7 linked regions of the Homo sapiens genome follow. The protein of the gene in region 1 interacts with the protein of each later gene in a biochemical or structural test. Each region holds a gene or a part of one and is shown in the gene's direction. Other genes may lie near its edges. The genes, in order: PPARA, BCL2, NRIP1, CDC34, PAQR3, SIRT1 and CEP350.

Evidence for each region.
Region 2: of the proteins of PPARA (region 1) and BCL2, one has a biochemical effect on the other in vitro, tested with the Homo sapiens proteins (one study listed by BioGRID).
Region 3: the proteins of PPARA (region 1) and NRIP1 form a complex in vitro, tested with the Homo sapiens proteins (one study listed by BioGRID).
Region 4: the proteins of PPARA (region 1) and CDC34 form a complex in vitro, tested with the Homo sapiens proteins (one study listed by BioGRID).
Region 5: the proteins of PPARA (region 1) and PAQR3 form a complex in vitro, tested with the Homo sapiens proteins (one study listed by BioGRID).
Region 6: the proteins of PPARA (region 1) and SIRT1 form a complex in vitro, tested with the Homo sapiens proteins (one study listed by BioGRID).
Region 7: the proteins of PPARA (region 1) and CEP350 form a complex in vitro, tested with the Homo sapiens proteins (one study listed by BioGRID).

Annotation. Positions count from the first base shown.
Region 1 is NC_000022.11:46,216,526-46,220,025, forward strand, and holds part of PPARA (peroxisome proliferator-activated receptor alpha), read left to right. Parts: intron 1-1,737; coding exon 1,738-1,876; coding exon of another isoform or gene 1,877-1,880; intron 1,881-3,286; coding exon 3,287-3,489; intron 3,490-3,500. UniProt on the Homo sapiens protein: Ligand-activated transcription factor. Key regulator of lipid metabolism. Activated by the endogenous ligand 1-palmitoyl-2-oleoyl-sn-glycerol-3-phosphocholine (16:0/18:1-GPC). Activated by oleylethanolamide, a naturally occurring lipid that regulates satiety.
Region 2 is NC_000018.10:63,122,846-63,125,307, reverse strand, and holds the end of BCL2 (apoptosis regulator Bcl-2), read left to right. Parts: 3' UTR 1-1,962; downstream 1,963-2,462. UniProt on the Homo sapiens protein: Suppresses apoptosis in a variety of cell systems including factor-dependent lymphohematopoietic and neural cells. Regulates cell death by controlling the mitochondrial membrane permeability. Appears to function in a feedback loop system with caspases.
Region 3 is NC_000021.9:14,967,501-14,971,000, reverse strand, and holds part of NRIP1 (nuclear receptor-interacting protein 1), read left to right. Parts: intron 1-2,474; 5' UTR 2,475-2,808; coding exon 2,809-3,500. UniProt on the Homo sapiens protein: Modulates transcriptional activation by steroid receptors such as NR3C1, NR3C2 and ESR1. Also modulates transcriptional repression by nuclear hormone receptors.
Region 4 is NC_000019.10:534,760-538,259, forward strand, and holds part of CDC34 (ubiquitin-conjugating enzyme E2 R1), read left to right. Parts: intron 1-1,077; coding exon 1,078-1,164; intron 1,165-1,483; coding exon 1,484-1,581; intron 1,582-2,253; coding exon 2,254-2,388; intron 2,389-3,500. UniProt on the Homo sapiens protein: E2 ubiquitin-conjugating enzyme that accepts ubiquitin from an E1 ubiquitin-activating protein, and catalyzes its covalent attachment to other proteins by an E3 ubiquitin-protein ligase complex. In vitro catalyzes 'Lys-48'-linked polyubiquitination.
Region 5 is NC_000004.12:78,929,439-78,932,938, reverse strand, and holds part of PAQR3 (progestin and adipoQ receptor family member 3), read left to right. Parts: intron 1-279; exon of another isoform or gene 280-353; intron 354-2,613; coding exon 2,614-2,769; intron 2,770-3,500. UniProt on the Homo sapiens protein: Golgi-scaffold protein which modulates its interactors acitivies by anchoring them to the Golgi apparatus. Functions as a spatial regulator of RAF1 kinase by sequestrating it to the Golgi apparatus.
Region 6 is NC_000010.11:67,901,656-67,905,155, forward strand, and holds part of SIRT1 (NAD-dependent protein deacetylase sirtuin-1), read left to right. Parts: intron 1-3,500. UniProt on the Homo sapiens protein: NAD-dependent protein deacetylase that links transcriptional regulation directly to intracellular energetics and participates in the coordination of several separated cellular functions such as cell cycle, response to DNA damage, metabolism, apoptosis and autophagy.
Region 7 is NC_000001.11:180,094,310-180,097,809, forward strand, and holds part of CEP350 (centrosome-associated protein 350), read left to right. Parts: coding exon 1-307; intron 308-1,213; coding exon 1,214-1,621; intron 1,622-1,728; coding exon 1,729-1,875; intron 1,876-3,500. UniProt on the Homo sapiens protein: Plays an essential role in centriole growth by stabilizing a procentriolar seed composed of at least, SASS6 and CPAP. Required for anchoring microtubules to the centrosomes and for the integrity of the microtubule network.

The DNA of each region.
Region 1 (3,500 bases):
GGAAATTGGCCATCAGAGACACAGAGTATCTTGCTTAGGGTCCCACAGCCCCCAGCAGCAGGGACTGGAACCAGAGACTGGCTGCTCCTGCTCCCCAGCAGTTCCTTCCTGCACATCAGGGGCTTCTCCACCTGATTCAAGCGACAGGAACCCCCTGTGCATCTTCATCCTCCTGCTGGCTCAGCCTGCCCTAAACAGATGTGACCTGGGCCAGGAGTGCATGAAGGCAGGCCCTGTTGTCCTGCATGCTGCCAGCTGGACTGGTGGCCCTTCCGTGTTTGTCAGCGTGGTGATGAGGAGAGCTCCTGTAGCAGCGTCCCTTTAGGGTTGCACAGACGTGCTCAAGTCTGGCGCCTTATGTACGTGATATGTGGGAGATCATCATCTGAATGTTTGGTTTGAATCAGAAATCCCTTCTCACGGTGCACGCTGCAGGTGTTCACTAACTTGGAAAATGCCACCGCCTTTCTGGCACAATGTACCATCTTGGAACACCAGCATTCTGCCCTGAGCCAGGCCTGGCCTCAGAGGCCTGGGCCACAGGGAGAACCTCACAGCCAGGACACTGTGGCACTCTGCTGTCTAGAAGCCTGTCTCCCCACCCTTCCCATTCTAACCCCATGCGTTCCTCAGCCTCCCCACTGTGCAAGCCTAGGTAAGGACATTATGAAGACGTCAGCCTGCCTCTCACATTCCCCTGCACACTGCTGTCCCTCTCCCGCGGGCCAAGCAGACCCACTGTGGCAAAAATATAGAAGAATGACTTAAAAGCAAAGAGAAAAAAGAACCCAAAGCAAAAATGAACTCCTTCGCATGTTTTCTAACCATATACCTTTGAAAAAGCTCCTTATAAAGTGGCCTTTTCCTTAGGGCCATGATTAATTATTCATTTAGTTTTGTTTTTTATGGACTATTTAGTAACATTGTTTCTTGCTGGGTAGAGTTTAAGATGCTTTTACAAAGCAAGAAAATTGTTTACAAACAGCTGGCTTCCTTTTATTATAATTTTTGTCTTTGAGGGAGTTAATATACTCTTACAAAAATTCTTAGAAAGTCTTTAGTCACAAATATGGAAATGTCACAATGCTGGGGATAGTTACATTCATATACATTGTAACAAGGCTGAGTAACTCTTTGGAAAACTATAATTGTGTTTTCCCAAGTCAGATGAGGGCATTTTGAAATGACTTCGAATGCTGCCTCATTTTATTGTTTTTCACATTAAATGTAACGACATTTAAAGTTCTGTATTTGTCCTAATCATTCCAGACTTCTTAGAAGAACTATTTCTTTCTTTTTTTTTTTTTTTTTTTTTTTTTTTTTGAGATGGAGTCTCACTCTGTCGCGCAGGCTGGAGTGCAGTGGCACAATCTCAGCTCACTGCAACCTCCGCCTCCTGGGTTCAAGTGATTGTCCTACCTCAGCCTCCTGAGTAGCTGGGACTACAGACTTACATCACCATGCCCGGCTAATTTTTGTATTTTTAGTAGAGACAGGGTTGCACCATGTTGGCTAGGCTGGTCTCGAACTCCTGACCTCAGGTGATCCACCCGCCTCAGCCTCCTAAAGTGCTGGGATTACAGGCATGATCACCATGCCTGGCCTGGAATAACTTTTCTCTAAATTTTGTTCATTTAAAAAGAAACAATAAATGAGCAACAAAAAAGGTGAGTAAAGCAAGTGCGCTGGTTTCTCAGTGGCCCAGGTCTTTAAATCCACTGTGTATTACCCTCACAGGGCTTCTTTCGGCGAACGATTCGACTCAAGCTGGTGTATGACAAGTGCGACCGCAGCTGCAAGATCCAGAAAAAGAACAGAAACAAATGCCAGTATTGTCGATTTCACAAGTGCCTTTCTGTCGGGATGTCACACAACGGTAGGTAAGGTGGCCCTGCACATTTTCCCAGTTCGTTCCTCAGTTCCCCTTCCTTGCTCCAAGGGAACAGATCAAGCTATGGATGAATGTGCTTCAACATTTCACACCCAAGTCATTTTGTAATCAGAGTGGCCTAAGAAAATAAAAGTCGCCCAGGCGCGGTGGTTCACGCCTGTAATCCCAGCACTTTGGGAGGCTGAGGTGGGTGGATCACCTCAGGTCAGGAGTTTGAGACCAGCCTGGCCAATATGGTGAAACCCCGTCTCTACTAAGAATGCAAAAATTAGCTGGGTGTGGTGGCACATGCCTGTAGTCCCAGCTACTCGGGAGGCTGAGGCAGAAGAATCGCTTGAACCCGGGAGGCGGAGGTTGCAGTGAGCTGAGATTGCGCCACTGCACTCCAGCCTGGGCGACAGAGGGAGATTCCGTCTCACAAAAAAAAAAAAAAGAAAAAGAAAGAAAGAAAGAAAATAAAAGTCTCCCAGGTGCGGTGGTTCACACCTGTAATCCCAGCACTTTGGAGGCCGAGGCGGGTGGATCACTTGAGGTCAGGAGTTTGAGACCAGCCTGGCGAACATGGCAAAACCCCGTCTCTAATAAAAATACAAAAATTAGCTGGGCATGGTAGTGCACACCTGTAATCCCAGCTACTTGGGAGGATGAGACAGGAGAATAGCTTGAACCCGGGAGGCGGAGGTTGCAGTGAGCTGAGATCGCACCACTGCACTCCAGCCTGGGCGACAGAGTGCGACTCCGTCTCAAAAAAAAAGAAAAAAAAAGAAAAAGTCTCAAATAGCTGAGATTCAGTGGTGCATTGGACTCGCTGTTAGAAACTTCAGTGGTAAGACTTTGATACAGAATCGAAAAACCAAGTGGAAGGCACCAAAATGACAGAATGTTCACCTCGTCCATAGGAAGGGTGTACCACCTCAAACATCTCACCACGTTATGAATTTCCTTCTAGCCAATCATTTAATAGTTTCAGAACATGCTAATTGTGATGTGAATGTAAGTCGTTCATAAGAGTTGCATGTCTACCTTCTGGAAAAAGAAGCAGTTATTATATAAACTCATCCCGAAGCCCCGTTCACCTCCTTCACTCAAAGGTTGATGATGCACCTGATAGTGGTGTGCACCCTACTAATGAGACGAACGATGGTGTCACCTTCAGCCTGCACCTGTTAACGATGGTGTCACCTTCAGCCTGCACCTGTTTAAACATCTACAGTGTATGGAGTTTGAGTTTTTCATCTCTCCATAGTGGAAAGCCGAATAGTAATGAAGGATGGGTCTGAACTGCCTGTGAATTTTCATTCCTGGTTTAAAGTCCTGGGGGAGCCCCTCGTCCAGCCCTGTCCGCGCAGTCATGACCTCACTGCTCATGCCTGTGTTTCCCCCTCCAAACCCTAGCGATTCGTTTTGGACGAATGCCAAGATCTGAGAAAGCAAAACTGAAAGCAGAAATTCTTACCTGTGAACATGACATAGAAGATTCTGAAACTGCAGATCTCAAATCTCTGGCCAAGAGAATCTACGAGGCCTACTTGAAGAACTTCAACATGAACAAGGTCAAAGCCCGGGTCATCCTCTCAGGAAAGGCCAGTAACAATCCAGTAGGTGTTTG
Region 2 (2,462 bases), on another chromosome or scaffold:
TAAAGTCACAGAATTAAGGAAGCACCTCAATTTAGTTCAAACAAGACGCCAACATTCTCTCCACAGCTCACTTACCTCTCTGTGTTCAGATGTGGCCTTCCATTTATATGTGATCTTTGTTTTATTAGTAAATGCTTATCATCTAAAGATGTAGCTCTGGCCCAGTGGGAAAAATTAGGAAGTGATTATAAATCGAGAGGAGTTATAATAATCAAGATTAAATGTAAATAATCAGGGCAATCCCAACACATGTCTAGCTTTCACCTCCAGGATCTATTGAGTGAACAGAATTGCAAATAGTCTCTATTTGTAATTGAACTTATCCTAAAACAAATAGTTTATAAATGTGAACTTAAACTCTAATTAATTCCAACTGTACTTTTAAGGCAGTGGCTGTTTTTAGACTTTCTTATCACTTATAGTTAGTAATGTACACCTACTCTATCAGAGAAAAACAGGAAAGGCTCGAAATACAAGCCATTCTAAGGAAATTAGGGAGTCAGTTGAAATTCTATTCTGATCTTATTCTGTGGTGTCTTTTGCAGCCCAGACAAATGTGGTTACACACTTTTTAAGAAATACAATTCTACATTGTCAAGCTTATGAAGGTTCCAATCAGATCTTTATTGTTATTCAATTTGGATCTTTCAGGGATTTTTTTTTTAAATTATTATGGGACAAAGGACATTTGTTGGAGGGGTGGGAGGGAGGAAGAATTTTTAAATGTAAAACATTCCCAAGTTTGGATCAGGGAGTTGGAAGTTTTCAGAATAACCAGAACTAAGGGTATGAAGGACCTGTATTGGGGTCGATGTGATGCCTCTGCGAAGAACCTTGTGTGACAAATGAGAAACATTTTGAAGTTTGTGGTACGACCTTTAGATTCCAGAGACATCAGCATGGCTCAAAGTGCAGCTCCGTTTGGCAGTGCAATGGTATAAATTTCAAGCTGGATATGTCTAATGGGTATTTAAACAATAAATGTGCAGTTTTAACTAACAGGATATTTAATGACAACCTTCTGGTTGGTAGGGACATCTGTTTCTAAATGTTTATTATGTACAATACAGAAAAAAATTTTATAAAATTAAGCAATGTGAAACTGAATTGGAGAGTGATAATACAAGTCCTTTAGTCTTACCCAGTGAATCATTCTGTTCCATGTCTTTGGACAACCATGACCTTGGACAATCATGAAATATGCATCTCACTGGATGCAAAGAAAATCAGATGGAGCATGAATGGTACTGTACCGGTTCATCTGGACTGCCCCAGAAAAATAACTTCAAGCAAACATCCTATCAACAACAAGGTTGTTCTGCATACCAAGCTGAGCACAGAAGATGGGAACACTGGTGGAGGATGGAAAGGCTCGCTCAATCAAGAAAATTCTGAGACTATTAATAAATAAGACTGTAGTGTAGATACTGAGTAAATCCATGCACCTAAACCTTTTGGAAAATCTGCCGTGGGCCCTCCAGATAGCTCATTTCATTAAGTTTTTCCCTCCAAGGTAGAATTTGCAAGAGTGACAGTGGATTGCATTTCTTTTGGGGAAGCTTTCTTTTGGTGGTTTTGTTTATTATACCTTCTTAAGTTTTCAACCAAGGTTTGCTTTTGTTTTGAGTTACTGGGGTTATTTTTGTTTTAAATAAAAATAAGTGTACAATAAGTGTTTTTGTATTGAAAGCTTTTGTTATCAAGATTTTCATACTTTTACCTTCCATGGCTCTTTTTAAGATTGATACTTTTAAGAGGTGGCTGATATTCTGCAACACTGTACACATAAAAAATACGGTAAGGATACTTTACATGGTTAAGGTAAAGTAAGTCTCCAGTTGGCCACCATTAGCTATAATGGCACTTTGTTTGTGTTGTTGGAAAAAGTCACATTGCCATTAAACTTTCCTTGTCTGTCTAGTTAATATTGTGAAGAAAAATAAAGTACAGTGTGAGATACTGGTTGTGCCTGGAATTGTTTATAATGTGTTAACATGATTTTGCCCTGCCATTCATCATCATTACACAAGACTTTGAAAAGCCTTCTTAACAAGCCAGTAAAATCACCAGGACCCTACTCTAATGAAGCCCTCAGGGACCAGGCTAAGGGATTGCCTTACAGGTGAAACCACCTTAGAAGGAGACTCTTGTTTCTTGGTAATAACCCTCCTGGTTAGGTACAAGATAGACCAGTCTTGAGTTCTACTCCCTGGGAGAGCTACTGTTGCTGTTGAGTGTGTTCTTCCATATAGACCAGAGATCCCAGCCTCTGCATTTTATAAGATGAAATGTGTATGAAAAAGAGGGAAATAAGCTGAAAGTTCTGTTTTGAAGTCAACATTTTTAGATGGAACCAAAGCAGCTACTTGCTTTGGAGCAGGTGAACCCTAAATGGCAAGGGATCTGATGTTTCCCACTGGGTTCAGGTCCTGATACCCTAATCCTCAACCCTTCAAGTCACA
Region 3 (3,500 bases), on another chromosome or scaffold:
TAAATGGTAGAGAGGTAAATAAATGGTAAAATACAGTGTTAGAGCTCCTTTACAAGGAAACTGTGATAATTCCTTTTTAAATCAACTTCCAAATCTGCTTTGTAAATTCAGAAATGTGTAAATTCAGTCTTTTTAAAGCAATGAATAATACTTTGCAAATTATATCATGCACAGTAAAAAGTAGAAAGCAATAACAGGAGTAATATGAACTCAAAGATGCTCCTTATTTCATTCTTATTCTTAAATAAAGTATGTTTTATGGCTGTTTACAAACCAGTTTTCAAATGACTGGTATGATTTTGACTTTCTTGAGTCTACCCAAGAGCAAAAAGGTTGGCAGTGGTGTGGAGAGAAATACAGTGGACTTGCATATCCCATTAAATGGTTGTTAAATGTCTTAACTAGTTGAGAATTAATTGTATATTAGCAGTTGTTATTTTTGTTTTGTTTGTTTTGAGATAGAGTGTCATTCTGTCACCCAGGCTGGAGTGCAGTGGCACGATCTCGGCTCACTGCAACCTCTGCCTACCAGGTTCAAGCAATTCTTCTGCCTCAGCCTCCTGAGTAGCTGGGACTACAGGCGCATGCCACCATACCCGGCTAATTTTTGTATTTTTACTAGAGATGGGGTTTCACCATTTTGGTCAGGTTGGTCTCAAACTCCTGACCTCAGGCGATCCACCCACCTCGGCCTCCTAAATTGCTGGGATTACAGGTGTGAGCCACCGTACCTGGCCATATTAAGTTTTTTGAGAGAATTAGAAAACTGGGTTTCCTCAACTCCAAGATGTTATCAGTTGTAAAATGTACCCGTATGTTTTATACCACTAAGAAAGAAAAATAAGCCTCCAATTAAGCAACATGCCATCAATTGTAAAATATAACCAGAGGGGGGAGAAAAGTAGTGTTTAGCTGGGATACCTCCCTACTCCCTGAAAAACAAGTCAGGGTTTTATTAGTAAATGAAAATGGGAGAATGGATATTTGGTGGCAGTCATGATAACCATTTCATTTCTATATCATTATTAACCTCTTAAAATATCCATCTTAAGTACATTATGGCAAAGCTTCTTAAAATGGTGGCATTGGAATCTCAAGAAAGTCTCTTCTCATCCTACTCCTTACACAGTTGAAATTAATTGTTGCTGCCTCCTTTCTGTATCTTTTTCTTTGGCTATCATTTCTTATCCTTTTAATCAATAAATTCAACAATTTGATACAATCAGATAATTATTTCCTAAAGTTTGACTTAGAGTTAAGCATTGTACTTAAAAAGCTACAGGGTAGTCTTTCAATTAAAATTTATCTTTTAAATTCCATAGGGACCAAGGTATTTGTTGATAGCTTCAGGTCTGATAACTTAAACAAAATGTTCTGGCATCTTGAAAAACAAACTGCATGGAATTTATTCCAGCTTCTCTTCCAAAGGTGTCATGGCCCCCCTTCCTTAGGTCAATTTTGACACTTACCTATCAAGTTTTCAGAAATGCAATGAGTTCTTGCTTCTTCTGTTGTGTATGTGTTAGTGATAGGAAATTTTTTGGTCTCTTCTTAGATAATAAATATCATTGGAATATTTTTCAAACTGTGACTAAAATGTCTTTGGCATTCTCCATTGTACTTTTTATATATGTTTATGCCCTCCCTGTCTTCTGTATCTGTAAGGAATGGACCTGACATTAAGACTTCTCCATAGAGCACATGAGTAAGGATTTACTAACGAACTACATTAAACCCTTGATAGCCCTGAACAAGCATCTAAAGAATCACTCCTCTCTGTCTTTAATAAGTCATGGTAAAAAGTATGGGTAGGTAAGTTTATGACTGTATTTTAATGTTTATGAATATGATTAAGATGGTCACACTTTGAACAGACTCACAAAATAATCTTCAACTTGTTAGTGGTTTCATTTTTTTGAAAACGGAAATTCTAAAAATTACTTATGGAATGTCTGGTGTTTGGGGGATGATGTCAGAAATGAATCTGTTCTGTTGGCCTCAACCCCACATCAGACTCATCAGAGTCTGCATCTCTTTTCCTTTTTCTGCACATCTACTTTTGTTTCTTCCTAAGTGCCCAGTAATGTAAGGAAGCAAGTTCTAGTTCCCCTGTAGAGCTATAAAGCTATAAAGGAGACTGAACATTCACATTACTTTGCAGAAAGGTGCTTATGAAAATTCAGAGACTTGGCGGCTTTGGAAGATGGCTATGTAACATTAAAGTATGTTCTCTTCTCTAATGATTTGATCATTTTAACAGTATGCATTAACCCACAGGATTTCCAGTAGACATTTTCAATTGAATAGGAACGGCAATAAAACAAATTACTAAAGTGACTATAATCCATTTATATGTCTATTATTTATATGTAATATATATATACATTTACAGATGCTATATTATTTTGCTTGTAGGTATCATAACGTGATTCTAGTTCTGCCTCCTTAACTATTCTTATTTTTATTTTTTTTAGAACACTGATATTTGCATTTAATGGGGAACAAAAGATGAAGAAGGAAAAGGAATATATTCACTAAGGATTCTATCTGCTTACTGCTACAGACCTATGTGTTAAGGAATTCTTCTCCTCCTCCTTGCGTAGAAGTTGATCAGCACTGTGGTCAGACTGCATTTATCTTGTCATTGCCAGAAGAAATCTTGGACAGAATGTAACAGTACGTCTCTCTCTGATTGCGATGGAAGGTGATAAACTGATACTCCTTTATTAAAGTTACATCGCACTCACCACAGAAAACCATTCTTTAAAGTGAATAGAAACCAAGCCCTTGTGAACACTTCTATTGAACATGACTCATGGAGAAGAGCTTGGCTCTGATGTGCACCAGGATTCTATTGTTTTAACTTACCTAGAAGGATTACTAATGCATCAGGCAGCAGGGGGATCAGGTACTGCCGTTGACAAAAAGTCTGCTGGGCATAATGAAGAGGATCAGAACTTTAACATTTCTGGCAGTGCATTTCCCACCTGTCAAAGTAATGGTCCAGTTCTCAATACACATACATATCAGGGGTCTGGCATGCTGCACCTCAAAAAAGCCAGACTGTTGCAGTCTTCTGAGGACTGGAATGCAGCAAAGCGGAAGAGGCTGTCTGATTCTATCATGAATTTAAACGTAAAGAAGGAAGCTTTGCTAGCTGGCATGGTTGACAGTGTGCCTAAAGGCAAACAGGATAGCACATTACTGGCCTCTTTGCTTCAGTCATTCAGCTCTAGGCTGCAGACTGTTGCTCTGTCACAACAAATCAGGCAGAGCCTCAAGGAGCAAGGATATGCCCTCAGTCATGATTCTTTAAAAGTGGAGAAGGATTTAAGGTGCTATGGTGTTGCATCAAGTCACTTAAAAACTTTGTTGAAGAAAAGTAAAGTTAAAGATCAAAAGCCTGATACGAATCTTCCTGATGTGACTAAAAACCTCATCAGAGATAGGTTTGCAGAGTCTCCTCATCATGTTGGACAAAGTGGAACAAAGGTCATGAG
Region 4 (3,500 bases), on another chromosome or scaffold:
AAGACCCCCGAGTGCCCTCCCTGTCCAGACCTCGCCCATGATCCAAGACCCCCGAGTGCCCTCCCTGTCCAGACCTCGCCCACGATCCAAGACCCCCTGAGTGCCCTCCCTGTCCAGACCTCGCCCACGATCCAAGACCCCCTGAGTGCCCTCCCTGTCCAGGCTTCCACCACGATCGCTCTGGGGGTGCTGCTCTCGTGCCTTGGAGTGCTGAGTGCCACCAGGACCCCTGACCCAGACAACCTCTGTGTCTGGCACTGGGGCCCAGCAGGAAAACAGTGAGGCTTCCTTGTTTACCTGCTGTGGCCCAGGAGGGCCGTGGGTGGCATCACGCCCCAGGCTGCAGGCCAGACAGCTCTGTCACCTGGCACGTGGCTTCAGGCCTCCCTCTGTGGCCGTCCTTGCCAGCAGATCTGGACCTCCAGGGCCTGGGTGACCACAGGGGGCGATGCTGACAGGGAAGGAGTCCTGCCAGGTTTCTGTGACCTATGGGTCTGCCTGCCTGACCCCCCAAGACCGGACACCTGAGGGCAGACGGCCATACTGACTCATCCCCTCCCACGGCCTGGGCCAGGGCAGGTGTCACAAGTGTTTGCTAACTGAGCAATCATCTGTGCTAACCCTCCCCACACCCTGGCTGCCAAGGCCCTGGAGGTGCAGCCCTGGTCCTGGGCTTCAGCTCCATCCAAGGGGAGCCTGGAGCCCCTGCCAGTCCATTCTGTCTGCTGGTGGGTGCCCCTGGCCTGGGTCCCATATGCCTGACCTGGGCTGCCACGGGCCTGGAGCCACGCGGGCAGCCAGTGCCCACGTTCCCCAGCAGTTGTGCTGGGCCGGGTCCCGGCCACCTGGACTGTGTAGGAGCTGGGATCAGCTCGGGTGACTCAGAAAAGGCTTCAGGCAGCCTTCTGGGGACTTGACCCCAGGCCTGTGAGAGTCCCTGCCTTGGGCAGGATACGGTGTCCCTCACACACACCCTCAGGCACCAGCACTGGGAGTGGGATGGCCTTGGGCACCTTGTGAGCTGGGGCAGGTCTTGGGGCTGGGCTGGACTGAGCCACCTGCCTTCTGCCCCTGCAGGCGCGCCTCAAGTTCCCCATCGACTACCCATACTCTCCACCAGCCTTTCGGTTCCTGACCAAGATGTGGCACCCTAACATCTACGAGGTGAGCGCGGCCCCCACGGGCCTCAAGTCCTCATCCTCCGGGACCCAGGGTGCTGGGAGCCTCACGTCCTCATCCTTCCGGGACCCGGGGCGCTGGGAGCCTCACGTCCTCGTCCTCCGGGACCCGGGGCGCTGGGAGCCTCACGTCCTCGTCCTTCCGGGACCCGAGGCGCTGGGAGCCTCATGTCCTCGTCCTTCCGGGACCCGGGGCGCTGGGAGCCTCACGTCCTCGTCCTCCACGTCCTCATCCTCCGGGACCTGGGGCACTGGGAGCCCGTGCTGACCTCTGACCTGTTCTGACCTGTCTTCTTCTTGTGCAGACGGGGGACGTGTGTATCTCCATCCTCCACCCGCCGGTGGACGACCCCCAGAGCGGGGAGCTGCCCTCAGAGAGGTGGAACCCCACGCAGAACGTCAGGTAAGCCGGCCCAACCCCCTGTGTCCACCCAGAACATCAGGTAGGCCGGGCTCCGTCCCGTATCCACCCAGACCATCAGGTAGGCCGGGCTCCCCCACAGGCTGTGGCGCCAAGGCCTGATTCGGGACCTGCCAGCTGGCGGTCCTGGGCCTCGCTGTACCTGCACGGTAGGTGCTTTCACGGGGCCTGCGGCACCGTGTGTCGGTGCAGACTCCCACCAGGACCCCAGGCCGGCCCCACCGTCTGGAACCACCTAGAGGTGTCCCGCCATCCTCAGTCCTGGGGCCTTCTCCTTACCCAGCCGTCTCTGGGTTGGTCACCTCGTGCCACGTGTGCCGCCTGGGCCTCGTCCCCAGGTACAAGCACTGGGCCGTGTTGCCCGTGTGTCCTGGAGTGTAGTCTAGGCAGGACGTGCGGGTGTGAGGGCAGCCCCGGGTCTGACGGAGGGGTCTGCACCTTGCTGCCCTCCCTGGTCTTGGCGTGGGAGGGAGGAGACTGATGCAGGTCCAGCCCCTGCTGTTCTGGGGGCCTGAGACAGAAGCAGAGGCCATGAGGCCAGGTGAAGGTCACCTGCTGGGTGGGTCCAGGCGTCCCCGTGACCCTCAGGGCCAGAGAAGAGCCGGAAGGCTGGGGTGCCCCGGGCCGCCCCACTCCGACCCACTCTCCCCACAGGACCATTCTCCTGAGTGTGATCTCCCTCCTGAACGAGCCCAACACCTTCTCGCCCGCAAACGTGGACGCCTCCGTGATGTACAGGAAGTGGAAAGAGAGCAAGGGGAAGGATCGGGAGTACACAGACATCATCCGGTGAGGGCGGGCGGGGGCGTCACGGGAGGAGAGACTCAGATCCGGCCTGCACCCCGGCCCCTGGTCCCACGGCCGCCCAGCCCCACCTTCCTGGTGAGGGTGGCGGAGCTTCCTGGTGCCCATTTACAGGGTGCCAGTCACAGATGGAGGCCGGGCCGAGTGGCGGAGGGTCCAGCCAGGTTCAAGCCCAGCTTCTTGCCCCTTTTCCTCTTTTTTTTTGTTTGAGACAGAGTCTCTCTCTGTCACCCAGGCTGGAGTGCAGTGGCGCGATCTCGGCTCACTGCAAGCTCCGCCTCCCGGGTTCACGCCATTCTCCTGCCTCAGCCTCCCAAGTAGCTGGGACTACAGGCGCCCGTCACCACGCCCGGCTAATTTTTTGTATTTTTAGTAGAGACGGGGTTTCAGCGTGTTAGCCAGGATGGTCTCGATCTCCTGACCTCGTGATCCATCTGCCTCGGCCTCCCAAAGTGCAGGGATTACAGGCGTGAGCCACCGCGGCCGGCCTTTTTTTTTTTTTTTTTTTTTGGAGACAGAGTTATACTCTCTTGCCTAGGCTGCAGTGCAGTGGTGCGATCTCGGCTCACTGCAGCCTCCACTACTCGGGTTGGAGCAGTTCTCCCCCTTCATCCTGCCAAGCAGCTGGGATTACAGGTGCCCACTACCACGCCGAGCTAATTTTTGTAATTTTTAGTAGAGGTGGGATTTCACCATCTTAGCCAGGCTGGTCTCAAACTCCTGACCTCAGGTGATCCACCCGCCTCGGCCTCCCAAAGTGCTGGGATGACAGGCGTGAGCCACTGCACCTGGCCTGGTGGTTAGTGTTTTCATAGATTCTTCCAGGCTTTTCAGTTTAACGCATGTCTGTGCTTTAATGAAGAAATGGGGTCGTGCTGTGTGTGCCCAGTGACTGACTGTTAGGGAACATGTGTCTGTGCCTTAATGAAGAAATGGGGTCGTGCTGTGTGTGCCCAGTGACTGACTGTTAGGGAACATGTGTCTGTGCTTTAATGAAAAAATGGGGTCGTGCTGTGTGTGCCCAGTGACTGACTGTTAGTCAGGGGTGTTGGCCTTACTCATGTCTGGAGTGCGTCCCTGCAGGCTCTTGGCCTGGT
Region 5 (3,500 bases), on another chromosome or scaffold:
ACCTTGATGGAGTGAGGTACTCCATAGAAGGAAACTTTCCATTATAACTGAAACATACCCAATTTGCCAGATTATCTTTCAGTCCATTTTTAAACTCTAGGAATAACATATTCCTTCTTAAACAGGGCATACTAGGTATGGGTTAACTTTAAAATCTGGGGTTTTCTGTTAATGCTATTTTACTTTTCCCTTGGATACCATAGTTTCTTTTTTTCCTCTTTTTATTTTCTTTTTCACAATGAAATGAGCTTTATGTTTGTTTCTAATTATTACTACAAGATATAATCATGTAGAAATTTAGGCAAACAGAAGTTTGTGGAAGAAAACGTCACCTGAAATTCCACTTTTCAGAGGTAACCACATTGGACATTTGCGTTAAACAATGAGTTTAACCCAAATGCGTATGTTTGTGTATGCATAGCTACCTTGCACCTGCCTACCTGCCTGCTCCCTTACCTGTCTACCTACTTCCAAGCTACAGTCATCTCTGCTTGCTATTTTGCGACCTGCCCTTGTGTCATTCAACATTGTGGCAATGGGATCTTTCCCCATCAATGAGAAATATACACTTTTATGTTCTCCTGATTTATGGTGCTTAATCTCAAGGATAATCTGAGAAAACAAATAACCAAACTTCTTTGAGTTACGTTTAAATAACTAACTTAGAATTAGTTACTGATTGGTTGCTTAGTAACCAAAAAGCTATAGACTATTAAGGATTTTAGACAATTGATGAAGCAATGAAGTTGTGGCAAAGTACATTGTTATTGAATACTGATATTGAGTCTATAGTAACTAGATTTGTTTAATGACCAGAATATAAAATATTAATAGCTAGATGACCATGTTACTGCCTTAGCAATAGCTTACAAAATGTTTATCATTTGTAACTACTTTATACTGTTTATTTGTCCCATTGCCTCCACCCCACTGTCACTGTCTCAGTGTTTGCTCTCCAGGGCTATTTCTGTAACCTCCTGTTTCAGCCCTTCTAGTCCACACCTCTGTTGGGGGGCACTTAAAATCTTCAGGAGTATCTTATCATACCCATAATATTGAAGTTAAAACCCATTAATGTATAGGAAATGTCATAATCATATTATAAAGAATATGATGCTTTTCCTTAATCCCTGCCCCCAGCCATAAATATGTGCACACCTTTTTTTATGTCCTTGGTGAATGCCAGCCCAACTTTTAAAATCTGCCTCAGGTGAACAGCCCTTCTCTGATACTTTTCTTCCCACCAGTCCCACCCTCCAAATGCACATGTACCTCCACAGAGTCAATATCCTCCCACCTTTTCCAATTATGCTGTGCACTGAAGTACAGTAGGATTTGTTACTGTACTGTTTGTTCAGTGATTCTGTATCACCTCCAATGTATGACATACAGCAGGTACTTAATAGCTGAAAGGCATTCTGCCATAGAACCTTATCAATTATCAGAACAGCTGATTGAATCAGATTAGCTTTACTCTCAGTTTGGCAACCATATAAAGTTAGCAAGTCATCACTGTTTTTTAAATTATTATTATTATTTTTTGAGACAGGATCTCACTCTGTCACCTAGGCTGGAGTATAGTGGGGCAGTCACAGCTCTGTCACCCAGGCTGGGGTATAGTGGGGCAGTCACGGCTCACTGCAGCCTCGATCTCCCAAGCTCAAGTAATCCTCCTGCCTTAGCCTCCCAAGTAGCTGGGACCACAGGTGCATGCCGCCATGCCCAATTTTTTTTTTTTTTTTTTTTTTTTTTTAAGAAATGAGGTCTCCCTATGTTGCCCAGGCTGGTCTCGAACTCCTGCGCTCAAGAGATCCTCCCACCATGGCCTCCCAAAGTGCTGGGATTACAGGCATGAGCCACTACTACACCAGCCTGTTTTTTCTTGAAGGCAATAAAACTGTGTTTACCTTAGAAATTAAAAGTAAACTCTATACAATGAATCTCATACAGACATGAACATTCTTAACTGAAAAAAAGCCAATTGTGGAACAGAATGCATAGTGTGATTTCATTTAATTTTAAAATGTGTGTGTATATATATATATATATATATATATAATGTGTGCATGTGTATAGACTAATATATCACAGGTGTTTGACATATGTATTGAAAATATCTGGAAAGACACATAAAAAATGTTATCACTGGCCACCTCTGGGGAATAGATTGAGTAAGAGGGGCTTATATTTATGTTCTTTGATTTTTTTAAGGCTATATATTGCTTCTATAGTAAATACTCTTTAAAAACAAATTAATTCATGGATCAAAACAAGCCTCAGATGATAGTTTTAAAACATTTGCATTGTATAACTTTCCCATTACTGTGCTATTTATTTATAATTTTCATTTTGTAATATAGTTATTTTAAATTTTCTCCTTCATTATTATTATCTACATTTTACCCATGAGGGAACTGAGGCTTTCCCTCATGGCTCTACATGGCTCTACATGTAGAGTGAGCTCTACAGTAGCCATGTAAGGCACAGAGCTAGAATCCAAGCCCATAAATGTTTGAATTGAAAGCCTAGCCTCTTAACTACTTCCCTGAATATCATGCATAAGTTGCTTTAGTTTCTTTAGTCACTTTGTTAATTTGTTTTTATTTTTCACAGGTCTGTATGCTTTGCTCTGTGGGCTATCATCTTTTTTCCTGCCATCGGTCAGAAAAAACATGTCGAAGATGGATGGCATTAGATTATGCAGGAATTTCTATTGGAATACTGGGCTGCTATGTCTCAGGAGTATTTTACGCATTTTATTGTAATAACGTAAGTAGATGAAAACATTTTACATTCGACCTTTCATATTGGTCTTGGGTTTTCTTGCCTTGGTTCTTTTGAATTTCTGAATAAGTACATAATTAACTTATAGACTAAATAGAAGAGTCTCGTATAAGCATAAACTTATTTTTCAGAATGGCCCTGTCATCTCTAACATCTGTTATCAGTTCCATACTTACTTTACTAATTTTCTATTGGAAAATATATATACAGTTATTTTCTGAAACTTAATGTAGACATTAAATTATTAATGTTTTCACTAAATCTATATGGCTGCGTGGTTCCTCAGATATGCACATTATATATCTTTTATTTGTGTGTTTATAGAATTGAAGTTAAAATTAACACTTGTTAAAATTATGAAGTTGGTTACTGCTTACCATTTCTTTTTTCTCCTCTCAGTGAAAAAAAATACAGGAAAATATATCTGAATTTATTAGCCCATATTCTTCTGTAAAATATGTTTTCCTGTCTTCAGTCTTATGTTTGGGGGTAGGCTTGTAAGACAGACCAGATAGGAGTCAGTGTCTTTAACAAATGTGAGATGTGTCTTTTCTGAATTCTGGATCAACTCTGCTTTCTGTCACTAAGTTCACACAAAAGTCAGTTTTTGCCTTGTGCAAAGCAGCATTTGCAACACTGTAATCAGATAATACAGCACCTGACCTAAAAATATTGGCCAACCAAACCTTACGGAGTAGAACCCTTAACTCATCACC
Region 6 (3,500 bases), on another chromosome or scaffold:
GGTACATACTAAAATTTATTAAGTGGCGACTGGCAGTTTAACTAATTGACATTCTCTTGTGTTAGGTTAATACAGGGGTTGGCGTACTATGGCCTCAGTCCAAATGTGGCCCACTCCATGTTTTTGTATAGGCTGTGAGCTAAGCATTAAGCATTAATTTATTACTTAAATCAACAAATAAAGTTTATGTGGTGTACAACATGATGTTTTGATGTGTGTACATTATGGAATGGCTAACTCAAGCTAATATTCATTACTTCACATACTTTTTTTTGGTGGTGAGAACATTTAAAATGTACTCTTAATAATTTTCAGGTATACAATATTTGTTTTTGTTTTTGTTTTTGTTTTGAGACGAAGTCTCGCTCTTGTCCCCAGGCTGGAGTGCAGTGGCGCTATCTTGGCTCACTGCAACCTCCGCCTCCCAGGTACAAGCGATTCTCCTGCCTCAGCCTCCCAAGTAGCTGGGATTACAGGCGCCTGTCTCCACGCCCGGCTAGTTATTGTATTTTTAGTAAAGACAGGGTTTCACCATGTTGGCCAGGCTGGTCTCAAACTCCTGACCTCAGGTGATCCGCCTGCCTCAGCCTCCCAAAGTGCTGGGATTACAGGCGTGAGCCACCGCGCCCGGCTACAATATGTTCTTAATTATAGTCAGCAATAGATCTCCTGAACTTATTCTTCCCAGCGTCTTCCCAATCCCACCTCCACCCCCTGCTAATAATTAATTTTAAATGACTGGGGAAAAAATTGAAAGAACTGTTTCATGACACTTGAACATTATATAAAATTTTCATGTCAGTGTTCATAAATACAAACTTTTATTAGAACATAGCCATACTATTTATATATTGAAATACAGTTGAATTTGTCATATGACCAATTTATTAGTATTGATTAAGATGTTGAGCAGTTTATTCAAGTGTGGTTTTGTGGAATGAAAGAGACAGGAGGGATTATGAGGACTCTCCTTAGCAGGATTGATGCATTTCACTTTTTTTGACAGGAAGGAAAGTTTAGGTTCTATTTTCTCAGCAACTCTACTTAACTGCCTCCATCTGAACTATATATAGGAGGGGGTGGATATCAGCAAAGATTAACATCAGTAAATTTTGATGAATTCTCTAAAAATTCTGATTTTTAAAGAGGGAATTTTGGCTGGGCACAGTGGCTCACACCTGTAATCCTAAGCACTTTGGGAGGCCAAGGCAGGTGGATCACCTGAGGTCTGGAGTTTGAGACCAGCCTGGCCAACATGGTGAAACCCTGTCTCTACTAAAAACAAATTAGCTGAATGTGGTGGCGCGCACCTGTAGTCCCAGCTCCTTGGGAGGCTGAGGTGGGAGAATTGCCTAAACCCAGGAGAGGTGGAGGTTGCAGTGAGCCGAGATTGTGCCATTGCACTCCATCCTGGGTGACAGAGCGAGACTCTCAAAAAAAAAGGTGGGTGTGAATTTTGTTATGTTGTGCGGGCTGGAGTGTAGTGCCCATCCATTGGCACGATCATAGAGTACTACAGCTCCCTAACTCCCAGACTCAAGTGATTCTCCCTCCTCTGTCTCCCCAGTAGCAGGAACTACAGGCCTGTGCCACCATGCCCAGCTTTCTTAGTCTTGAGGGACTGCATTTACACCTATGCCTTTTACTCTAGGGTCTTTTATTCATATTGCTAGAAATTTGGAGAAGAAAGAAAGGCATAATCTCTGCAGAAAAGCCATTATTTCTGCAGATAGTTCTTTTTTTTTTTGAGATGGAGTCTTTCTTTGTCACCCAGGCTGGAGTGCAGTGGTGTGATCTAGGCTCACTACAAGCTCCACCTCCTGGGTTCACGCCATTCTCCTGCCTTAGCCTCCCGAGTAGTGGGACTACAGGCACCCGCCACCATGCCCAGCTAATTTTTTTTTGTATTTTTTAGTAGAGACGGGGTTTCACCATCTTAGCCAGGATGGTCTCGATCTTCTGACCTTGTGATCCGCCGACCTCGGCCACCCAAAGTGCTGGGATTACAGGCATGAGCCACCACATCCGGCCAATTTCTGCGGATAGTTCTAAGCTTTAGTTTTGACCACGTTGGTTGCCTATGGCCAATTCCTGGATTATTTGCATGTTTCCAGACACAGCTATGTGAAAGCAGGGTTTGTTTTAATAGTGTTTTGAGCCTTTGATTCCAGTTCTGCTTCCACTCTTGGTCTATAAGGATCCCTATGGCAGCAACAGAATGGCCCAGCCCTCATGATTGGTTGCTTAAAAAGGCTTTAGGATATTCAAACTGGGTGGCCTGTCTTGTTTGGAATAGGACTAAGCATGTCACACTTTCACCATGGAAGAGTTAATCCATATTCTATCTGTAAGTTGTATCTCCAGTCATTGGTTTTCAACAAGTGGTCCTATCTTAGGAGGAGTGGTATATTAGAACAGTCCTTCCAGAGTAATTTTTTTCATTATTTCAGATTTTTTAGTTTTTTTTGTTTGTTTTTTTTTTTTTTTTTTTTAAAGGCTCTCACTCTGTCACCCAGGCTGGAGAGCAGTGATACGATCATAGCTCACTGGAACCTCTACCTCCCTGGGCTCAGGTGATCCTCCCACCTCAGCCTTCTGAGTTTCTGGGACTACAGGCATGAACCGTGAGGCCCAGCTAATTTTTGTGATTTTTGTGTTTTTTGTAGAGTCAGGGTTTCTCCATGTTGCCCAGGCTGGTCTCGTACTCCTGGTCTCAAGTAACCTGCCCGCCTCGGCCTTCCAAAGTGCTGGGATTAGAGGTGTGAGCCACCACACCTGTACTACTACTTTTAGTTTGAACACTATATTTAAATCTAATAATTCAGACATGGCCCATTTCATACTTGACAGAAAGTATGAGTCAAAGACTCAAATCATTCAGATTCTCACATATGTAAAACGTACGCTTGGCCGGGTGCAGTGGCTCACGCCTGTAATCCCAGCACTTTGTGAGACCAAGGTGGGCGGATCACCTGAGGTCAGGAGTTCAAGACCAGCCTGACCAACATGGAGAAACCCCGTCTCTACTAAAAATACAAAATTAGCTGGGGTGGTGGCACATGCCTGTAATCCCAGCTATTCAGGAAGCTGAGGCAGGAGAATCACTTGAACCCGGGAGGTGGAGGTTGTGGTGAGCTGAGATCGCGCCATTGCACTCCAGCCTGGGCAAAAAGAGCGAAACTCTGTCTCAAAAAAAAAAAAAAAAGCAGGCTTATAAAATAAAACAAAAATGTCCCTTATGATTTGTCTTAAAGGTAGTTGAATTAATAAGAGCTAAATCTAGTGTCCCATACATCTTTGTGTTTCTTACTCTACCCTTTAGAAAGGGTGGGGGTGGACGTGGATAAGGCACACAGTTAATTCAGGGACGGTGGAGTCTTGGTACTTGCTCTTTTTCCCTGACCTTGCTTTGGAGTTATTTTATTTTTTAAATTCTGCATTTGGCATGCTATTATCACTTGCTTACTATTATAGGTCCTATTTTATCTGTTGCCTAGCAT
Region 7 (3,500 bases), on another chromosome or scaffold:
GTCATCACTAAATGAGGAAAAAAAGTCAAAACAACAACTGGAAAAAATCAGCTTACTGACAGACAGTTTACTAAAAGTCTTTGTAAAGGACACAGTCAATCAACTACAACAAATCAAAAAAACCAGGGATGAGAAAATCCAGCTTAGCAATCAGGAGCTTCTTGGTGATGACCAAAAGAAAGTAACACCCCAAGACCTATCCCAAAATGTTGAGGAACAGTCGCCAAGTATTTCAGGTTGCTTCTTAAGTTCTGAATTGGAAGATGAAAAAGAAGAGATTTCCTCTCCAGATATGTGTCCCAGACCGGTGAGTATTTCGTCTAGAAAAAGTATCAGTATACCTTTTGACACTTTTAACAAGGCAACTTACCTTGCCTATATAGTACATTTTAATTCTGTGACTCCTGATAGGTTTTTTTTCCCTTGACGTGTTGTTTATTAGAGAAGGATCACTGTACTGGTTTTTAAAGGCCTTGTAGCTGTTTTTCCTGGCTGAAGTGTAATTGTCCTCTATTATGTCATGAGTAGTCAATATAGGGTTGTCACAAGCACTGGCAGGTTTTGGGGAACTAAAACATCCATTTAAACTGCTGAGTTGACAACCCCTGTACTGTCCATAGATTACATCTCCTTCCAGATTCACTGAACAAATTCGTTCCATGGAGCTTTCCAGTGGCTCACCACCCAATTCTTTTTTGCCTGTGAAATTGTTTACATATCTACTCAGTCATGGTTGGCCTGCAGAGGTTAGCAGTTGTGATGTTGATTCTGGTAAAATGAAATAGATCCACTATGACATGCACTCAGACCATCAGCTTGTTTATGTTGCCCATGGACAGTTGAGCAAAAGTAATGACTTTGAGTAACTTGAGCCAGATGGTCACCAGAGGTGAGAAATTTTATATCCCATTTCCATATCCCATAGACAGTTCTTTAGAAACAGAATAATGATAATACAAAAAGCGGGGAGAGCCCTAATCAATAAACATTTTATAAAAATTCAGTTATATGCAAGGTTTATATAAGTAGAATTGAGGGAACAGGATAACTTTTTCTTAGATTGTTTATTAGTAGCCACCATATTGTTTTTTATTCTGCTTACTTATAGAGAAATATTAGATATATAAATAATGCATTTACTCTGTCTTTTTTTAAAAAAAAATGATATGAGGTCCCTAAATGGTGCTCTGTTTGAATGGTTCCATTTCTATAGGAGAGCCCAGTATTTGGTGCCAGTGGGCAGGAAGAACTTGCTAAGAGACTTGCTGAACTTGAACTCAGCCGGGAGTTCCTGAGCGCGTTAGGAGATGATCAAGACTGGTTTGATGAAGACTTTGGTTTGAGCTCTTCTCACAAGATCCAAAAAAATAAGGCAGAAGAAACCATTGTACCTCTAATGGCAGAACCTAAAAGAGTAACCCAACAACCATGTGAAACATTATTGGCAGTCCCCCATACTGCAGAAGAAGTAGAGATTCTTGTACATAATGCAGCAGAAGAACTTTGGAAATGGAAAGAATTAGGCCACGATCTTCATAGCATCAGTATTCCTACAAAACTGCTTGGCTGTGCCAGTAAAGGTCTAGATATAGAAAGCACTAGTAAAAGGGTCTACAAACAGGTAGGTGAAATAAAAGGATAATTTTAGTTTTTAAACTTTTCTCCCATTGTCTGAAATTTGGATTCTTAGCCATTTTGTTTTGTTTTGTTTTGTTTTTCTCTATCAAGGCGGTTTTTGATTTAACAAAAGAGATTTTTGAGGAAATATTTGCTGAGGATCCCAACTTAAATCAACCTGTCTGGATGAAGCCATGTAGAATCAACTCTAGTTATTTCCGACGAGTGAAAAATCCAAATAACCTTGATGAAATCAAGGTAAACTGCAAACTATAAAGTGTCTTCTTTTTTGACTTGCTGTTCATTTACACATATCTGTAAATGTTGTAAAAGCAGGTGCTCTTCTGTATGATTAACCTTTGTGTCTTCAGGACCTGTTCCATAGTGGGTATTCAATAAAGATTTGTTGACTTACTGAATCCATGAACAGTGGAGGGATTGGAATGAGTGAAAGGGCTGAATCCTCAAGTTTGTGCAAAAAAAAAAAAAAATTCTTTTACCAGTCATTTTCTCTATATACATAATTATAATATTTAAGAAAAATTAGGAAATACCTAGGGAGATAAATTATTGCAACTAATAGGAGTTTTAGGTAAGTTTTGGGGGCTTTAGAGATAGGTATAATGTTCTAAAAGTACATATGAATACGTGTCATATATATGTCTTTTCAATATGCCAGCCCTGGACACATAGGTGTTAACTTCTTTATCTTTGACTTTGGAGGTTTCAAATTGGTAATGTGGTTTTGAACTATGTAGGATAGTAATGTGATACGTAAAAATATTTATTTTGTTATCTAAGAAACCTTTGTAAACCTTTGTCCAGAAGCTACAAGGACTATGAACTTTAAAGTCACATTGCTGGCAATCTGCTCTGCCTAGTCACATGTTTCTTTACGGCAAAGGTTATATTTCCAGAGCAGTGATTCTCAACTTTTAATGTGCATGTGAATGATCTGAGGATCTTGTTGAAATGGAGATTCTGATTTAGTAGGTCTGGAGTAGGACCTGAAATTCTGCATTTCCAACAAGCTCTCAAGTCATGCTGGTCCTGCTGGTCCTGCTGGTCCTGCTGGTCCCAGGACCACGCTGAGTAGCAAAGCTTTAAACTTGTATTTCCCAAACTTATTTGATCACAGAAAGCCTTTAAAAATATTTTATACTTATAGAACACCAACAGATATTTATGAGATGGGATGTATGCTTACCTCAGGGGTTGGCAAACTATGGCCCATAAGCCAAATCCAGGCCCCTGTATGTTTTTATAAATAAAGTTTTGTTGGACCACAGCCATACCTAGTTGTTTACATGTTACAACTACATGTAACTACAACAGTGGAATTGAATAGTTGTGACAAAGACCACATGGCCCGCAAAGCCTAAAATATTTACAGTCTGATTTTTTACAGAAAAAATTGGCCATCCCCTGGCTTAAAGTAACTAGCTTTTTAAAAACACATTGTATACTCCATTCCTTCTACCCTTTCACAATTGAAAATGCTTGAATGCTATGTGTGTCTGTGAACAGGTAGGGAGTGATGGAATTTCCGGGCACGTTGGTACTTTGAGAATCTTTCCAGGTGATTCTGATTCATAAATGTGTCCCTTCCCCTGTTAAGAACATTGTTTTTTTAACAGAACAACCATAAAAGTAACAAAATAAATTATTAATAACATTAAGTTGAGGTAAGACAAGATATATAATATATACCAACAATCAAACTACATGCATCAATATAGCATACAATAAATGCCCACTAATTTTAATATTGACATAACATTTTGTAAAGTTTTTAAGGGTGATAGTTCAAATATTGTTAGTAGTAAAATTATTATGCTTCTCATACTGAAGTGTTGATATTTTTTAATTTAACATATTTGAGT